Regions from separate parts of the Homo sapiens genome. Here region 2 is linked to region 1. The links come from fine-mapping of genetic effects on gene expression. A gene starts in region 1. The other region holds a variant in brackets. All regions are shown on one strand. Distances are from middle to middle.

Region 1 (4,240 bases):
ACTCAGATGTGGTTTTAGAAATTTATGTTCGATTAGAGCCGGGCCTGCCTCATTCGCTGCCTGGTCAGGGGCAGACTCTGGAGTCTGGGGGATTTGGGAGGAGCTTCTGGAAGAGAAGGGAAGCAGGAACCTCTGGGGAATGGGTGAGAGAAGATACCTTGAAATGCCAGTGAGCCAAGGTAAGAAGACTGGAAGAAAAAGAGGTTGGAAAAAGGAAGGCAGGGTGACTACGGTTGTTGGGAGTGTGGGGGAGACAGTCCTAGGCTCCATGGTAAGAGGAAGCAGGAGAGGACAGTTATATGAAGGGAGAAACCATGATTTCACAGAGAGAAGCAGGCTGGAAACTGGGGGTTGTGGGGAAGTGAGGCTAACATGAGTCTGAGGGCCTCAGGGAGGTTCCTATAGCTAGCCATATCCCCTGAGTAGGTGGGTGAGTGGAGGGAATTATAAGGGAACTGGGGGAGGCTGACATGAGAAGGCTGGTGGGGATGGGGAGGTGAGACTCGGAGCTGGTGCCTGTTGCCATGGTGTGAGCTGAGGCCCTGGGCCTCCATCCAGGACTTAGGATCTGGCCCAGTGGGTGGACAGTCACTGCCAACTGGACACAGTCAACTTCTTGGGTGGGTTTTACTGTCTCTGGGAGAGGAAGGATGATGAGGAGGTGGGGGCGAAGAGGGGGTAAACAAGCTGGAAAGAACCTAGAAGATAGCACCACTTTGCATGGTGATCAAAGCCCTGGACATTTTCGCACCCACCTGGTCTCTTGGGAGGGGACCCTGCCTGCCTCGTAAGTCAGGAAGGAAGTCTTGTTACAGGGATCAGAGTGTTGGAAATGGAGACAGCTGGCCTGTGGTGGTAGAGGTTGGGGAGTGGCTCAGGAATTAAATTCCCGAATAGAGACCAGCGATACCTATTGGATCAGCTTCATACTTGCGGGAGCAGAGTAGGTAGAGCTTCTGGTTGGTTAGGGTGCTATTGTAGTAGCAGCTAGTGGGTGGCTGTTGGTGGCTCAGGGAGCAGACCGTGATGGGGAGGGAATCCTGGGTGAGTGTGCAGTATTCATTGTAATTCTCACAGAAGCTGTCACTATACTTGCAGAACTTCTGGATGGCCTTCCAAGGGGCATGTATCACATAATGGATCTTTGGGCAATCTGAATTTTGCATCTTGCCTCGCATATAGGACATCAGACCATTACAATAGCCCCGGAAACCCTTTGGGTAGTTAACCCTGGGATAGTCAATGCTTAAGGTATAGAAGTTCCTGCTGCCAATCTGCATCTTGATGTCCATGACCAGAGTTGGCCCCAGAACAAGCTGGAGGAAAAGGAGCCGGGTCACAGCTGGTGCCATTCCTCCTGCTGGTAGAGTTAAGGTGGTTGGGGGCAGCAGTGGGCCTGAAGTGGCTGTCTGCCACATCCCAGAGCCTCCAGCATTCCCAACCCAACAGTACTTTAGAGATCATCTCACCCATAACCAAGTTCTCATGACCCAGAAAGAGGAGATGCTTGCCCAAGGCCACCCAGACAACCAGCCACCTTCAGCCAGCCCTGCTCCCCTGGTCCACCACAGAATCTCAGCCTCTGCAGAGTCCGTGAGCTACATTTGCAGAATAAGAGCTCTAACTGGTCCTTGGGTGAGAGACTCTTCCCAAGAGTCCTTGGGCCCCTGGCACTCCTGCTAGTAAAAAATGCAGAGAAGAAAGAAGGAGCAGGCTGACCTGACAATTCTCTGGCAGCTGGGAGGAAGGACAGGAGCTGAAGATAGCTGGGTAGGGACGTGTATTCTTCTTGCCAAGGCCAAGACAGTCAAGAGATGAGGAGAGGCTAGAAAGGTTTCTAGGTAAAAATCAGTCTGGGAGGAGGGAATGTCCCCGAGTTTGATGAGCCCCTGTGCTAAGAGGGTTGGATGGGTGGGAGGAAAGAGGCATTACTATCTGGTCTCCTCCTCTACAGTGTCATTGGAACACTTACTTCCAATCTCCTTGCCAAAAGTTCCTAAGTGCCTGGGCTTTCTTTGATGTTTTCTCTGTTCCATAGCCTGTGCTCTCGTGGCAAGGTGAGTAGGAAAGCACTGTTATGTTTCTGAGGAACAAAGTGCTTCTTATTCCTGACCCTCAGAGAACAGAGCATTCGCCACTTTGTCATCCCACTCACGGGAGCCCAGGAGGGCATGTACTCAGGGGCCTCCCACCAAAGTGCTGGGCTGAGAATCAAAGACCTCCATGTGGACTCCCCACGGTCCCTATCAGCCTTACTCCTGTCACACCCACAGCCTTCACCTGTGACCTCAGGCCCTGTCAGAGTTTGAGCACTACTGGAAATCTCTGCATGCTGACTCTGAAGCCTCAAACTTGGCAGTTTGGATTTGAAAGCATAACCTGAACATGAAAAGCTGTGGATGCCAGAGCCTGGCATGATCCGTTTCGTACTGTTGGTTGATCTCTGAGTGGTTTGCCATGCTGGGGAAAGGGCCACGCTCCTATCTTTTTCATCAACATCTTCCCTTTCATCAGAATCAAAGAGCCAGCTCCCTGGAAACTGCTAGCTCTTGCCCTTGACTTCCACAGGTCACTCAGCCTTGTTAGTCTGCAAGGTGTCTTCCAGATTTGGGGCCTCCTCTTAGGAGAGCCTTTTTACCTTTGCTGGGCAGCAGAAAAGGGGAGTCAGAACACAGAAAGCTGAGTGCTCCAACACCCTCAGTATAGCTCAGGAGGAGGGAGTAAGGCCGCAGAGAGAAAGATTGGTGTTCCTCATGTAGAGCCCCCTAAACTGGCACTTTCTGACAGCACAAACCACAGTCCAAAATGGAATCCATCCTCCCCATAACTTGTTTCTCTTCCTGTTTTGTCAACTCAGTTTCCCTGGTTACCTATGCAAGAAACCTGAAAGTGATCCTAGACCCCTCCACCTCCCCAATCCCAGCTACGGGGAGGCGGTCCTGCATGGTGGTTAAGATCAAGGCTTTTGAGTGAAACAGACCAGGAATTGAATCCTGCCTCTGCAGCTTACAAACTGCACACCATCTATCTGTTTACGAAACCACTGAAAGCTTCCTTGTTTCATCTGTTCATGAGGATAGTATTTTTTACCTCACGGCAGTATGAGGATCCATTAAGATGTATATCAAGAGTTTTTAGACCAGTGCCCGGCACATGGTGAGTCCTCAGTATGAGCCTGAGTCCATCAGTCACACAGCCCTGACAATCTTAAACTTTTCCCAAGCCCATCTCTTCCATTCTTATTTCTTCCTCAGTGGATGCTCTCGTCTCGCCTGGACAGCACACACACTCCAACTCCAGTAAGACTCAACTCAAATATATCTCTTATACAACTTCAAGAGAAAAAGTGTGATCCCTTCTTTCGTCTAAAAGTCTGCAATAGCTTGTTTCTCATAGGGTAGGGGTGCCCAGTCTTTTGGCTTCCCTGGGCCACATTGGAAGAAGAATTGTCTTGGGCCGCACATAAAATACACTATCACTAACGATAGCTGATGAGCTTAAAACATGCAAAAAAATTCATAATGTTTTAAGAAAGTTTACGAATTTGTGTTGGGCTGCATTCAAAGCCATCCTGGGCCACATGTGACCCGCGGGCCATGGGTTGGACAAGCTTGTCGTAGGGTATAGTCCAAACTACATCTCACAGGACATAAGACTTCCCATGATCTTGCACCTGCCCATGTGTACAACTGCATCTGCATCCCTGCCTGCTTCCCACCTTGTCCCCCACCTCCTCTATGCCCTATCTGCTGCTGTCTCCTCTACCTGGAACCCTGCTGCTGCACCGTTCCTCGCCCCCATCTATTCCATGGTGCTAGCTCATAGAAAGACTCAACCCAGAGGTCCCACTTAGAAAGCCTCTGCTGGGAAGACCTCGCCAAGGAAGTGGGCACCGTCAAGCAAGTGAGGATAGAGCCCACATGGGCAGGTGGCTCATCTGTATTCTTCAGGCTGCTCAACAAGACAACACTGAGCGGGTGCCAATGCAGGGTGTCGCCTGAGCCTGGCTGACTCAGGCCTTTGCTTTGAGGAAGCCAACCACATTGTGGTCCCTGCCTTGAATCATGCCACCTCTTCCCTGGTCCCTCAAGGCTGCAGCTTCCCTGAGAATAGAAAGGGACTTTTTATACCTTTTGTTCTTCCTCTTCCTTCATTCCCCAGCCACCCATCACCGCTCTTCGCTCCCCCCACCCAACACCACTCACTTCTGCCGCACAATTACAGAAACTGAACAGCACAT
Region 2 (4,432 bases), 56 kb after region 1:
CCTTCCTTCCTGTCCCCGGCTACTTGGGAGTCAGCTTCTTCCCTCTCCCAACTCATCTCCCTCTTCTCTCCTGGCTTCTAGAGAAGATCCAGAACTTGCGTGCAGCTTCTCCTCTCAGCACACTTTGGGCTGGGATGGCAGTGGGGCATAATGGAGCCCTGGGCGATCGCTGAATTTCTTCCCTCTGCTTCCTGGACACAGAGGAGGTCTAACGACCAGAGTATTGCCCTGCCACCACTATCTCTAGTCTCCCTAGCTTGGTGCCTTCTCCTGCAGGAGTCAGAGCAGCCACATTGCTTGCCTTCATACCCTGGAGGTGGGGAAGTTATCCCTCTTCCGGTGCTTTCCCATCCTGGGCCACTGTATCCAGGACATCACTCCCATGCCAGCCCTCCCTGGCAGCCCATGTTCTCCTCTTTTCTCACCCCCTGACTTTCCCTGAGAAGAATCATCTCTGCCAGGTCAACTGGAGTCCCTGGTGACTCCATTCTGAGGTGTCACAAGCAATGAAGCTATGCAAACAATAGGAGGGTGTGACAGGGGAACCGTAGACTTTATATATGTAATTACTGTTATTATAATACTATTGTTATATTAAATGTATTTACTCACACTTTGCCTCTAAGGAGCTAGAGTAGTCCTCTGGATTAAGGTGATAAATAACTTGAGCACTTTCCCTCAACCAGCCCTTAACTAGAACACAGAAAATAAAACCAAGACTGGAAGGTCCCCTCTACCCCTCCCAGGCCCAGAGCTAGCTGACTGTGTATGAGCCTGGGAGAATGTGTCTCCTCCACAGTGGCTCCCAGAGGTTCCACACACTCTCTGAAGCTCCTTCTCCCACACTGCACCTACTCCTTGAGGCTGAACTGGTCACAGACAAACTGGGATCCAGCACAGTCCAGCAGTTCTCAAAATGAGGTCCTCAGGCCACAGTGCGTGAGAACTTGCTTGGCTGTTTGTTAAATGCTAATTCTTGGGCCCCATCAGAGCTACTGCATCGAAACCTGGGGGTAAAACCCAATATTCTGCATTTCTTATCAAACTCTTTGGGTGATAACTAAGTGTCTGAAGAGGTGACTATTTCCTGACAGAAGGACCCAAAGAGGGAAGCAGGACATAGGTAGGCAGACAGACACAGGGCCCTGTGCCTCAAGACACCTGTTTATTGGGGACACGACTCTGCAATAGGGATGACAGGAATCGTACCAAAAATAGCGACGTCTACAGGGCCCCTGATGGGGCTAGAAGGGTACAGTGCCCCCCACCCTCACCCCTTGTACAAAAATAAACTCTCACGCCTATGGACCAGCAAAGACTGGCAGAGTGGCTCCTCAACAGGGACACAAACCTTCTCTGCCAGCCCAGGGACCCCGTTCTTTGACCCTCACCTCTGCCACTTCTAAGGCACTGTGACTCCCTTGGGCTGGGTGGGTACCGCCAGCCCACCCTCCTACGCCCGCCGCGCCTTCCACCTCTGGTCCGCCTGGGGCTGGGATATGGGTCCCACGCTGCCCCCTGCTGGCTTCTCTACCCAACTACCTCTAGCGCTCCCCCGCTCCGGCGGGGTAAGCTCACTAAGCTAATCGCCCCTGAGGGCCCACTACCGTTCTTGCCCCCCCAGCCCTGCCTCTCCGGGTCTGGACAGCCCGGAGCCCTCCTCCCCTTCCTGCGAAGGACTGGGAGGGGTCTCTCCTGATGGTACTCGGGCATAGGGCGGGGACGCGTCAGCCTGGGGTGGCCGGCGGCCCCTAGCCCGGCGGCTGTGGTGCACTTGAAGGTGCAAGGCCATGAGCTCTGGGGCTCCAGTGGCGAACGGGCAGAAGAGGCAGCGGTGGAGGGCACCCCCAGGCCCGGCCTCGCCTCCCGGCCCTGCCCGCAAGGACAGGTCCAGGGGTTCGGCCTCACCGCCTCGCCCGTTGCGCAGGGTCCTCCCAGGGCTGGCGGGCTTCCGACGGGACCCCGGCCCAGCACCGCTAGAAGGAGGCCGGGGACTTGAGGCGCCCTCCACCCAGGTCGCAGGCTGCGGAGACGGCTTGGCTCCAGATTGCGGGGCCGAACCCCGCTGGGAAGGAGGCGGTGGCTCCGGGGGTGGCCCGGGGCCGGCCCCGCTCCTCTGCTCCCGGTGGTGGCGCTGTAGGTGATACTTGAGCGAGCCGGACTGGGTGCCCGCGTAGTCGCAGTGCGGACACTTGTAGGGCCGCTCGCCTGGGGAGAGT[G/A]GGTGCGATAGGGTCACGGGGTCACGATGACTGCACGCACCCACCCGAATTTCGCCCAATTTACAGACCTCATTCTCAGAACCAAGAAAGGGCACTGCGTCTCCCACCCACTTTGATTTAATAAAGGAGCGTTTCCCAAGTGATCTCATCCAGCCAAACTGAAGGCTTCGGAACAAACTTCACCTCCTAGTGTTTCGGTAGCCCTCACCTTTCTGCCCGCCCCCAGTCCCCTCTCCACGCCGGAGGCTGCCTCCCTCACCTGTGTGCACTCGCAGATGCACTTTGAGGTGATGTGCTGAGCGGAAAGATTTTCCGCAGAAAGGACAATCCTTGCCGGTGGCGCCCCGGCCCCCTTCAGGCCGGGTCCCTCCAACCAACAGCCCATTCTCTTCTGCAACACATACGTTAAGAGGAAGTCAGGGGGGCCCACACCCTGTCCAGGTGCCGCGCACCCACCCCACACCCATCCCATAGGGCTGCTTCCCCTCGGGGTCCAGGAGGAAACAAAGTCTGAGGGGTTAGATTTGTTGTGACTAAAGAGTTAAGTGTTCTCAAATGATGGCAAAGCCTCCAGGAAAACAAAACAAAACAAAACAAAAAAACTCAGGAGAAATTAAACGTAAGTTCTTTTAACAAGGAAGCTACGAGGGAGTGGCGGCGTAAGAGTCAGAGGAGGACGCGGCGTACCCGGAGAGCGGAGGGTACCTACATACCCTGCGTGGCGGTCGATCTTGCCTGGGCCCCAGCAGCAGAGGCAGAGTGCCCCGGTCCCTCACCCGGGCGCGGGTGCAGGGAAGCCAGAGAGCCCAGCGACCTGCCCCGGGCCCAGGTTTCCTCCTCGGCCTCCACCACCTCCTCTTCTTCCTCAGGCTCCTCCGCACGGTGCCGGCGAGCCCGGGCCGGGAGAGCAGAGGACAGCGGGCGGAAGCCTCCGAAGCTGCGGCCGGGACCGGGCTCAGCACCCTCGCCGTTGGGCCGGCCCTCGCCAGCTCGCAGGCTCAGGTAGCCCAAGAGGCTCGGGGGCTCACGGCGCTCGGCCGGGGTGGGAGCCGGGGCCAAGAGGAGCGCTGGGCCCAACGGCTCATAGGCCAGCAGGCCGAGGTCAGGAGGCTGGGGGGCGCGGGCAGGCCCGGAGGCAGGCCCCGGGGCACGCAGTGGGCCCAGCTTGCTGGCGTGCACCTTCATGTGGTTCTTAAGGAACCAGGGCTCCTTGAAGCAGCGGCCGCACACCGGACACGCATGATCGAAGGAGGCCTTGTGCTTACGCATGTGGCCCTTGAGAAACCAAGACTGTGTAAAGCTCTGGCCGCACACTTGGCAGCGGAACTCCGGAGGCGCTGGGGGCTCCTCGGGAGCGGCAGGAGCTGGGGTCGGGGTTGCCTCACGTTCGGGCTCCGGCTCCGGCTCCGGCTGGGGGACTGATCTGGGTTCGGGCTGGGGTGGAGGCTGAGGCTGAGGCTGAGGCGGAGGCGCAGCGGAGGTGGCCGCCAGGGGACGCTCGGGAGCCCCGTGGGCCGTCAGGCTGTGGTGCAGCAGCTCCTCCTCCTGGCTGGAGCCGAAACTGCACAGGCCGCACTTCCAGGGCCTATGCAGGATGTGCAGGTGGCGTTCGCGCTCCGCCGAGGTGCGAAACTTGCCTTTGCAGTAGGGGCAACGGAAGGCGGACGATGAAGGAGCCTGGGGCCGCGCCAGACCCTCAGTGGCAGGGGTGGCCTGCATGCCCCCTGAGCTTCGGGCTCTCCCCAGTCGGGCCTCGCGTAGTAGCGCGCGCTCTTCCAACTCCAGCAACAGGCGTGCAGCAGGACTACGTGGGCGCTCGGGCTGGTGTGTGCGCAGGTGCGAGCGCAGCAGAGCCCGCTGCGCCGCGCGGTGGCCGCAGTGAGGGCACTGGAAGGCCTGGGCTCCTGGGTGCGCCCGCAGGTGCAAAGCAAGGATAGAGTTGAAGCGGAAGCGCTTCCCGCATACAGGGCAGGGGAAGCGCCGTTCGCCTGCACGACTCTCAGACCAGCTCACCGCTCCCATCCCGAGCGACCCTGCGCTCACGGCTGGCCCGTTGGAGTATCGCTGCAGATCCAGCTCGCCGTCGAAAGCCGGCGGCGACGGCGCTAAGTGGCCGCTCGGGGCGCGGGGACGTGAGCCCTGTGGAGAAAGATCTGCGTAGAGCAAAGGGTGAAGGTAGAGCTGTAAAGGAAGCAAGGGCGTCGCCTCGAGGG

Which allele goes with the higher level. Alleles are on the strand shown, and positions count from the first base shown. SD is a standard deviation of normalised expression in the study named.
With allele A in place of G in region 2, the expression in thyroid of the gene that starts at base 1,871 in region 1 is lower (moderate effect, 0.45 SD a copy in GTEx).

What was found.
Region 2: its variant is fine-mapped to the expression of RNASE13 in thyroid (GTEx, PIP above 0.99).

Annotation. Positions count from the first base shown.
Region 1 is chr14:21,032,937-21,037,176 of GRCh38, forward strand. It overlaps RNASE13 (ribonuclease A family member 13 (inactive)), which reads right to left and starts at 1,871. Exons shown (of 2, transcript NM_001012264.4): 1 at 1,720-1,871; 2 at 1-1,360. The coding sequence starts at 1,352. The coding sequence ends at 882. It also overlaps a transcript of NDRG2 not described here and a transcript of TPPP2 not described here.
Region 2 is chr14:21,088,933-21,093,364 of GRCh38, forward strand. It overlaps ARHGEF40 (Rho guanine nucleotide exchange factor 40), which reads left to right. Exons shown (of 24, transcript NM_018071.5): 24 at 82-1,316. ZNF219 (zinc finger protein 219) reads right to left here. Exons shown (of 5, transcript NM_016423.3): 3 at 2,933-4,358; 4 at 2,479-2,610; 5 at 1,145-2,208. The coding sequence ends at 1,604. Among named protein-coding and RNA genes, the nearest start is that of ZNF219, 7.5 kb to the right of the region's middle. RefSeq lists enhancers at 1,347-2,192, 2,193-3,037 and silencers at 3,642-3,851, 3,998-4,292. The variant G/A (reference allele first, on the strand shown) is at 2,220.